Regions from separate parts of the Homo sapiens genome. Here region 1 is linked to region 2. The links come from fine-mapping of genetic effects on gene expression. A gene starts in region 2. The other region holds a variant in brackets. All regions are shown on one strand. Distances are from middle to middle.

The links. PIP is the estimated chance that this variant, and not a neighbour inherited with it, causes the effect. A credible set is the group of variants that fine-mapping cannot tell apart.
Region 1: its variant is the best candidate, but not a certain one, in a credible set for the expression of SC5D in atrial appendage (GTEx, PIP 0.68).

Annotation. Positions count from the first base shown.
Region 1 is chr11:121,235,589-121,240,973 of GRCh38, forward strand. It overlaps LOC105369533 (a long non-coding RNA gene), which reads left to right and starts at 1,215. Exons shown (of 3, transcript XR_948108.3): 1 at 1,215-1,881. It also overlaps the pseudogene TRPC6P5. RefSeq lists enhancers at 560-1,099, 988-1,177, 1,100-1,639, 1,640-2,179, 4,385-4,933. The variant C/A (reference allele first, on the strand shown) is at 2,610.
Region 2 is chr11:121,290,028-121,295,412 of GRCh38, forward strand. SC5D (sterol-C5-desaturase) reads left to right here and starts at 2,744. Exons shown (of 5, transcript NM_006918.5): 1 at 2,744-2,789. RefSeq lists enhancers at 2,486-2,535, 5,249-5,385 and a silencer at 2,706-2,755.

The DNA.
Region 1 (5,385 bases), 54 kb before region 2:
TTTTCTTTTTCCATTTATTCTACTTATGAGCTAGAACTGTGGGACCAGTGCCTTTAAAGTGTTGTCTGAAGTAGCAGGATGATGAGAGGTGAATAAAGATTCTTTTGTGTAGTGAGAGTTAAGCAGGACTACAGTAATTAAAAAGAAAATTGGGGAGGGGGTTGTTAGTGAGGAATACACGGCAGATGTAACTGTTTCTCATGGAGCCCTTGAGGAGATATTGTTAGGAAATGCCAACAACTGTGGGATGGAATGAAAACCACCTTGGGGACATACATATCCAGGAACATGGTGGACTAGATAGCCAAAACATTCCTTCCAGTGCAAACATCTGGAAATACAAGATAAAATGTGATAATCATATTGATAAAAGTATAAATGACCTCATAGAAGGTCAAAGAAATTCTCATCATTCAAAACTAAAAGGGAGCTGGAAATCAGAATAGAAAGCTGACAATAAAACCTTCACTGCCTCCCATGCATTTAGCAATGTTGGTAACCTAAAAGTGGTTATTTTAATGGCTACTGGGAGACAGAAGATGAACTTGCCAGAGCAAGGGAGGATCCTTGGAGAGCAATACCCATGATGACAATGGACCAACTAAAAAAACTCACATCAGAGCAAAGGAAACCAGAAGTAAATTTTTCTGGTTTGGGCTGGGTTATTAGTAGAAAAAGAAAGTCGCCTTTGAGAATTTGTAACCACAGGTCTATACAAAATGACTCTGAAGTTTGGATTTTTGTGAACATAATTCATGGTTAAGAGACATGTAGGTGGCTCTCACCAGTAGTCCCAGCTACCCAGGAGGCTAAGGTGGGAGAATCACTTGAGCCCAGGAGTTTGAGACTGCAATGAGCCATGATCATATCACTACCCTCCAGCCTGGGGAACAGAGTGAGTGAGATCTTGTCTCTAATAAAAGAGAAAGTGTTAAGGAAAAAAGCTGAGCGTTGGGAAGAAAGCTGAGGTGGGGCTTGCGTGACTGACATAATGTCCTCTGGAATGTGTCTAGACTTGCTGGCTCCTTGCTTCTAGCCCTCCTAGGCTCCTAGATCCATTGTATTTCCGTTATCTCAAGTAGCAGAACATGTTCCATATAAATGCTAAACTGTCACAGCTGTAGATCATGTGCCTGCCCTTTTGACCTCCACATTCTCACCACCTGTTTCTTTGTTGGATTACAAATAAATAGCGGGGGCTCCCAGGGCTCAGGGCCTTCACGATCGTGATGGCCCGCTGGTCCCACTTCTCTGTCTCAAACTGGCTTTTTCTCAATCCTTTGACTCCGCCGGGCTTTGTCACCCCCATGACCTGGTGTTGGGTCTGATCACCCCAACGTTCCTGGCTGCTCAATGTGGGGTGACAAAGACCCCGGTGAAGGAACGCTAGAGCGTGTGAAAGCAGAGGACGCATCATCAGAGGACACCTGAGGATGTCTAAAAGAAGCTCAGCAGGAAAGCTGAGTGCTGGGAAGAACCAGGGTAGCAATGGGACAAAGTGAAAGCAGACATTCTGCTTATTTAAATTTCTTAAGGCGTTTATTATGAAGAGGGGGGAGTGAAAGTTAGTGCTCAGAATTTATCACTCTTCAGTGCAGTAAAGCAGTTTTGCCCATGGTTCCCGGAACAAGGGACTATGGAGTTGGATGAATGGGAGAGAATTGGCAGAGATTTTTAAAAAAACATATAAAGGTGGAGCAAATATTCCAGTCTCGGTTTGGTCAATGTGGGCACTAATAAAAGCAGCTCTTGAGCCATTTCAAACAGATCATGAGGCAGATTCAGATGAGGAAGAGGAGGGCGAGTGTAAAAAACTAACTTCAGATTCTGAATGTGAGGAACAGAAACCGGAGGAAATCAAAGAAAGGGAAACCGAAAAAGGTATGTTTTACTAGCCCCTCAGCTCCACCTGCTGAATTAAGTGAATGGCCACCTCCTCTCTCTCCCCTTAGTGGGCGAGAAAATGAATTAGCTACAAAACTTACCGCTCCTGTAGTTGCAACATTAAAACCTGGAGCAATTGGTAGTACTAAGACCCAGTGGAATCTGAGGCTTGTTTATTTAGAGAGCACCTCAATAAACTGAGGCATATCCGGCACAGCCAGTGCCCTTACAAACGGCAACAATTGTCTCCCACCGCGGCGGGCAGTGCTGCCGTGGACCTTTGCAGCACAGTTCTCATTTCCCTGCTTCCTGGGAGCCACTGGAGAGGGTCCCCACGGGAGTTGGGGGACCCTTGCCCTCAGGAACCGTCGGTCTATTACTTGAAAGATCTAGAGGTGGCACTGTGCATACGGAAATGATTGGTTCTGATTATACCAGAGAAATTCAATTAGTTATTAGTTCCTCAACTCTGTGGTCTGCTTCCCCAGGAAAAAGAATTGCTCAGTTGTTGACATAAAGCTGGGAAGCAGCACAGTGAGAAGAACAGGAGGCTTTGGTAGTACTAATCCAACAGGAAAGGCTGTATTTTGGGTTAATCAAGTGTCTGACAAAAGACCTATTTGTACAGTAGACCTGCTGTTGGATGCTTACAGACTGACACACAGGCCTGGTTGGCAGTAGTCTCCGGAAAAAATAAATCATGCGCTGCTTTGCGTAGGGCAAGT[C/A]AAGTCATCTTGAAGCTTCAGTTTCATGTTTAACCTGCCTCTGCTGGAGAAAAACAGATTTAATAAGCACACAGGCATGATATGGGCTGAATGTGTTCATTGTGGTGTTTGTGGCCTTTATGATGGGAATGTTCAACCTCTACTACTACATTGGTGCAAAACAAAGTGAAGCCTTCACAACAGAGTTTTAAGACACTGCTCTAGGCTATATTTGGACTTTCTGAAGTGAAATCAGTGGTCATCAACTATAACCACAAATTCATTGAAAACATTGGTTATGTTATTTATGGAGCCTATAATGTTACAATGGTCATTGTTTTGCTAAGTATGTTAACTGCCATGATCAACAATTCATTCCAGGGAATTGAGGATGATGCTGATGTGGAGTGGAAATCTGCAAGGGCCAAACTCTGGTTTCCCTGCTTTGGGGAGGGGAGAGCACTTCCTGTTCCCTTCAATCTGGTGCCAGGTCTGGGGTCCCTGTTTTGTCTCTTGCTGAAGCATAAAGGGTGGATTTTTCAGCTCTACCCAGGGTCATAAAAAAGGTTTCCAAGAAAGATGCAGAGATAAGTCAGTAAGTAGAGATAAGTAAGTGGAGACAAGAAAGTAGAGACAAATAGAGACAGAGACAAATAGAGACAGATAGAGATAAGTAGAGAGAGAGAGAGATAAGTAGAGAGATAGAGATAAGTAGAGAGATAGATGAAGACTAGCAATATAAGATCAGTGCCCTAGTAGAGGTTACTGATCAGTGCCCTAAAGAGGTACAAAAGTAGAGACTAGCAAAGACTAGCAGAGATTTGCAGGGACAGACAAGAACATTCTGAATTATGAAATTAGCTATGGCTCAAAGGGCAAATATAAAGGGAATAGAGGGGAGGGAGGCAAGGATAAAAATGCTCTTTCTTTTCTCTCCAACAGGACCTTTTGGTCCTTTAAATAATCAAAGGGCAGATGCACTGGTGTCTGCAGTCTTTGCTGATGCACAAGCATTCCATTCTTTAACTCATCTTAATGCTGCAGGCCTTAGAAAAAGATATGGTCACATACAAAAAGCTGGCAAAAAGGAAAGATAATTATATGGGGAAGAGGAGTTGCTTGTGTCTATCCAGGTGACAATCAGGAGCCTGTGTGGGTGCCCACCAAACATCTGAAGATCTATCATGAGCCACAACATCTAGTGGACCCACCTGTATAATGCGAATTGAAGGTTTGAAAAGCCTCGATTTGCTTTCTCTGTGCCTTCTGTTAATCAGAAAAGACCTGTTTCCCATTATCAGTTGAAAGTTTTACCTCGCAGTAATTAATCAGAGGCAGAAACTGAGTTAACAAATGCTTCAGCAACGGCATGGTCCCGGCTACAGCCACAGAAGTTTTTGCTTCTGTTTCAGTAGATTTACTAACGTGGGGGGTGAGGGTATACTTGTGCTTTTTCGGGAGATGAATGAACCATGTGGATGCCTTAAGATGTGTACGACCATGGAATGGGAGACTGGAGGGACCCATGGATCCCAACCATGCACTGAGTTCCCCCAGTATGAGCCACGAGCCAGTTGAATCTGAATGAGAAGATGCAACAAGGGCCGACCAGAGTCATGATGCTTAATGGACCAATGCTTTCTGACTCAGCTCCTCTCTACCTTGAATACAAGAGACCCTAATGGTTAGGCAGGAGTATCATTGCCCCTATTCAGTATAAAGAAGTTACAGAAGATGGACCTTCATCATTTTGCAACCCCTAGGATTAAGGATCCTCTTGTAAAAGGGAAAGGGGAGATATGTGGGAAGCATTCAAACCAGAGTGACTCTAGTAATAATGATGGCTAGTAATAATGGTAGTAATAATGATACCTTCTTTTACAAAAAAGAGAAGGGGAGCATGTTGGGAAAAATGCTGAGGGTTGGGAAGAATGCTGAGATGGGGCTTGCGTGACTGACATAATGTCCTCTGGAATGTGTCTAGACTTGCTGGCTCCTTGCTTCTAGCCCTCCCAGGCTCCTAGATCCATTGTATTCCCATTATCTCAAGTAGCAGAACATGTTCCATATAAATGCTAAACCGTCACAGCTGTAGATCATGCACCTGCCGTTTTGACCTCCACATTCTCACCACCTGTTTCTTTGTTGGATTACAAATAAATAGCGTGGGCTCCCAGAGCTCAGGGCCTTCGCAGCCCCCATGATCATGATGGCTCCCTACTCCCACTTCTCTCTCTCAAACTAGCTTTTCTCAATCCTATGACTCCACCGGACTTTGTCACCCCCATGACCTGGTGTTGGGTCTGATCACCCCAACAGAAAGAGCGTGATAGATAGACATGCAGGACAGGATGAGAACAAGGTAGAAGAAATAAATACATGATGGTTGAGAATTTTGCAAAATTGATGGAAGGCACAAATCCTCAGAAACAGGAAAAGAAATCATGAGTAAAAAGATACACAATAGTAATGAAACTGCATAATAAAGATAATGAGATTATCTTAAGAGCAGACAGAGCAAAGACAGATTATCTACAGAGGAATAGTAATTGACTGCCAACAGGCTCTTACCCGCAAAAACAGAAGCCAGAAAACAGTGGAAAACAATTAAAATGCTGAGCCAAAAGTAAATGTTGTTATGCCCCAAGGAAAAATGTATTTCAGTAATGAGGGGTGAATAATATTACAGGATCTTTGGGTTTTGAATTTCTTCCCAGAAACTTGTGGCCAGTGGCGCCTTTACAGTTCTTGTTCTGCATCCAGGAAGAACGAGATATGCAGGCAAGTGAGGGGTGAA
Region 2 (5,385 bases):
GGTATTCCTTTATAGCAATGCAAACGGACGAATGCAGAAAGAAAGGGTCTTCATTTCCTAACTTCAGAAACTACAGTCTTTGTAGTTTCCTTTGTAGTACCTTTGTAAAGACAAAGGTCTTTAAACAGTTTAGTGCTTAGTGTTCTCATTAAAGTATAATGTTATATAATGAACGTGGGCTGATAAATTATTGATGCATTGAAAGGCAACATTTCATTGAAAAAAATTCAAACTCAATCTCAGTTTAGAATCTTCCAAGTGAATGAGGACTTCTAACTCTGTTCAGGTCAAATGTAGCCCTCTCAGAGAAACTGACTGACCATGCTGTCTGAAGTTAACAGCTTCCGTTAATTTTGATTCTCTTACCCCATTTTCTTTTTCTTCATAGCACTGTCCGACATTGTATTATATATCTATTTATTTATTATCAGTTTTCTGTCTCCTTACTAGTGTGTAAGCTTCATTAGAGCAGACTTTGTTTTGATTATCAGTATATCTCCTGTGCATATGACAGTGCCTGACACTTATCACCATTACATAATGATTTATTGAGTAAATAAATTGAGTAATTTAATGATTAAATGGTTTGTTTCCATGTTCATGTTCCATCCAGACACATAGGCAGGTATTGTGGCTTATCTCTGAATTCCTTGGTACTGGCTGGTTGGTACCATAGACCCTTGCAAACAATGAATAAATAAATTACCCTGATCCATCAGTGTGCCTGGATAGAAAAGACATGTAGGAATGCTGCACCCCAGGATGTGCTATTAATACACTTATACACCACGGAATACTATGCAGCCATAAAAAAAAGAATGAGTTCATGTCTTTTGCAGGGACATGGATGAAGCCGGAAGCCATCATTCTCAGCAAAATAACACAGAACAAAAAACCAAACACCACATATTCTCATTGAGTATGTGGGAGTTGTTCAACTGTGGGAGTTGAACAATGAGAACACATGGACACAGGGAGGGAAACATCACACACCGGGGCCTGTCAGGGGGTGGAGGGCAAGGGGAGGGAGAACATTAGGACAAATAACTAATGCATGCAGGGCTTAAAACCTAGATGACGGGTTGGAAGGTGCAGCAAGCCACCATGGCACATGTATACCTATGTAACAAACCTGCACGTTCTGCACATGTATCCCAGAACTTAAATAATAATTAAAAAATACACTTAAATTTATTTTTAAACAAGATTGTTCTCTTGAGGTTAACTTATTACTACTTTGAGTTGTCAGGAGTGATTGCAAATTTCTTGGGAATCCCTAAGTCACCAAGAATAAAGACCACTTGTAATAGCTAAGGCATATTCAACAATAAAATTCTAGAGATTCAGGATATTTGATGTTTGCTTATAACATTTCACTTTTGAGCTTTTATTCGTTTAATAAATGTTTTATCATCTATGCTCAATAACATTTTAAAGTGTCCATTCAAATCATTTCATTGGGCAAAACAATGTTCCTTCCCTAATTTCCCTCATCAGAATAGCCATTTTGTCTCTGTGCTCAGCCTATACCACCAATTACTGTTTATTTCCTGTCCTTGTAATAAGCAACATAGTTATTTATACATGCCCATTTCTCCCACAGCACATAAGCTTTTTAAGGTTGGGAACCATGTCTTTGTCATTATTGTAACATCTCTTTCCATTCCCGGTGTTCAGTACGATGTGTTAAACGAAGTAGACACTCAAAACTTTTTAAAATTTATTTTTATTTATATAATGAGTCTTTTTTAAAAAAACCACCTACACTATTTTAAATTCATTTGAACTTTGTCCAGTATCCTATGTACATTTGAAGTTTAACTACCGGAAAAGTCTTTTGAAGGCAGATCGAATCATGTTATTTTTTTCCCTTAAAAATCCCTCATTTCTGTCATGTATTCCCCATATTATTTATGTAATAGGTAAAGTGGCCCAGTTTGCCACTTTGAAGTTGCTGAGCTGGTATCACAAGTCAGTCCCCTCTGTTTTAATCTCTGTTTAAGGAAAGTCACTCTGAAACGACAGATCTTTTGGTTCCTTATTTCTGCTTTCCTCCGTCCTCTTCTGCCTGTGAAGCCACCCTCCTCTGCTCAGCTCTGTTTCAGGAAATCGGAGCTGCTCGATTCATGTGTAGCAAATCAAAGCCAATTAGATCTGCGTTAACCTTGGTTTTCAACAACTTGTATCGTGAAAAGGTTTCTGTCCATGTTTACCCTCATCTTGTCACCATTTAGACCCCTACATACACCGGCTCGCGGAGCCTCCAGCCATTCAGCGCTAGAAAATCGGGGGGACTACGTCTTAAAACCTTGAGCACCTGTTTGGGAACATCTGCACCTCCTCCCTTGAGGGAGAAAACGACCCAGACATTCGCGTCAAAGGAAGTGTCGTCTATTTCCCTCAACGCAGGGCACCCGTTCTAGGAATGTTTGTATAAACACCGTAAACCTGCCTGGTACCACCATGAATGACACAAGAGCTAGTTTAAAAAGAAAGCAAAGAAACAAACGCAAAACCCGAAACCGCATCCTCCACCGCAAAGGTACTCGGATGGGGCGCCCGCCCTCCCCTTAGTCAGAGGACAAAGGGGGCGTGGCCGAGCGCGCGGCGCCCACGTGACCGCGGAGAGCTGCGCGCAGGCCCTTCGCGCGATCTGCCGTCATATCAGCTTATGGCGCCGGTCGCTGATTGGCTGGCCGCTCCAGCCTCCCGGCCCGCTTGCTGGCTGCCCAGCTGCTAGGACAGTTTGCAGAGCAGTGGCGTGCGGAGCGGCGGCGGACCACCTCCAGGTGGGGACGGTGGGTGGGCGGGGAAGGAAGCGGAATACACCTGAGCGGGCTGGGCCGGGGGGCGATGGAATAAAAGAAGATGGAGAGACTTCAGCGCCTGGGACTCGGGTGGGCGAGGCGGAAGGTGTCCTCGCAGCACGGCTTTTCTCCGCGCCGCGGTTGGTTAGCGAGTGCCCTCTGGGTGCTAGGCGTTGGGCGGATGGTAGGATCGCGGTAGCATACGGATCCGAGTCCTGCGCCGAGTGAGAGGAGAGGCTGGCAGGTAGCCTGGCATCCCGAAGACTGGCGGCGAGGGCTGGGCCGGGGGACCTCGGGGCCTGGAGGGCTGCGCCACCTGGGAGTCCGGGCGGAGGGGCCTTCCGCTCGCGCTGGGAGGGATCGCGGGGCCGATAGGGAGGCCTGGACTTGAAGGAGCCGACCGTGGACGGGCTTAAAGAAAATGCAGTGTTTGATGTTGGGTGTTGCAGATCTCTTACTCAAGGGAATTCTGGTCTGGCTGCTGAACACGAATGCTTTACTTTTCCCTTCGTTCTGGGAGGGTTTTTTTCTTTTAAAGGCCAGAAGAATCAGGCTGAAGAACTGGTCGGTATCAGAACTCCTGACCATTGCAAGCCTCTGTTGCTGCGGCGTAATTAGAATGAAGGGACAGCAATCTGGGGCTGAGGAGACTGAAAGGAAAAGGGAAATAATCTGTTCCTTTTGCATCATAAAAGGAAAAATAATGTATACTGACATCCCTGTGTTACAGCAGAGTAGATTTGGAGGTGGTGTAAGTGAAGAAAACAAGACCTCAGTACATAGAGTTTCCAAACTGGAAAGTTTGTGGCAGCTCGGTACTTTTAGAGGAAACCCTCTGGAAGTTATTTGTCTTTATATCACTATCATTTTTTAAAGTTTCTAATGATTGATACCTAGTAAATAATAACTGATCCTTGATCATTTACAGAGTGCTTTTCCATTCGTTATGTAATGTAATTAATTAGCATGGGGTGGTACTCAGAATCCCTCATCTGCATATAAAACATCTTGAGAGATAACATAACGTGGTAGCAAAGAGAAAGGTTGTGGAATGTACATCCCAGCTGGTTTTTTCTGTTATTGTTGCTTGCTACTGAACAAGTTATTTAAATACTCTGACCTCAGTTTCCCTATCTATAAAGTGGGGAGCATAGAAGTACCTATCTCATAGAGGTATAGGGATTAGATGAGGTTATACAAAAATAATACCTGGTTCTCAATAAATATTAGCTATCATTTTCTATACTTTTAAAGTAGGGCAAAAAGATAATGGTAGACTGAGTTGTTCTAAGCCTAATATTGTTATTATAACTGAGTTTTAAGAAGAAGTTTCTTTAATTCTGCAAGGACAAAGTATTTAAGTTTCTGTTTGAAGCAGTGGTACTTAATTTAGGGTCCTTGGGACCCCTAACTTCAGGGCTTATAACCCCTTAAAATTATATGAGCTTGTAGAGGCACTGAACATTTTTAAAAATTCAGGAGTTGACGACTTGAAGTAGTGGTGAAGAGGCTATAGAACTTGGCAGAAGTTCACGTACTTTGCAACTAGATTGTGTGTATTTGAATCCTAGCTCCAGCATTTATTTACTCTTATGACCCTATGCAAGTTACTTAAAATTTCTGTGCCCAGCTTCTTCATCTATAAAATAATACTAGTACCTACCTTTGAGGCTTCTTGAAAGGGAAAATTAGTTAATATATTTAAAATATTTATATTACCTAGTATATATTAAATATTACTATCAACTACTGTCAGTTATTTTTCAAACAAAAATCAAGTGGCACCTATTTTATCTTCTATTGAAGTAATTTTGACGCATTTTTGACGGCCTTAACAGTGATAATCATATAGATGCTATTTTATTGAGTACCTTTCTTGGGTCAAATGTCAAAAGTCTACTTAGTCTCTAAACCTCACAGCAATCAAACATGTTTGTGTTCTTTTTGGTTGCACGATACTATTCTAGGTATTGTATTGAAGTAGGGCCACATGGCACTGTGGGGAACATGTAGATTGGCTCATCAGCTGTTACCAACCTTTAGTGATATAGCAATATCCTTTTCAATTATTAAATGTTTATGTTATCTGATATTACGTAGTACCCTGTCCCTGCTACACCACCTCCCTTGGCAGTCTTCACCCCTATAACTTCAACTACTACCTGTATACTAACCAGGCTCGCTTTTGAACTTCACATTTATATTTACATGTGGCCTATTGCTTATATCTAAGATAGAAGATGAGCCACAGATAATTAGGTTTTAAGATCTACATTGAACCCGTTTTGAACCCCAGATATCTGAGACAGGTCTCAGTCAATTTAGGAAGTTTATTTTGCCAAGGTTAAGGATTCACCCGTGACACAGCCTCAGGAAGCCCTGACAATATGTGCCCAAGGTGGTCGGGGACACAGTTTGCTTTTATACATTTTAGGGAGACATGAGACATCAATCAATATGTGTAAGAAGTACATTGGTTGGGTCTGGTAAGGCGGGACAACTCACAGTGGGGGCTTCCAGGTTAGAAGCAGATAAGAGACAAAGGTTGCATTATTTTGAGTCCTTGATTAGCCTTCCA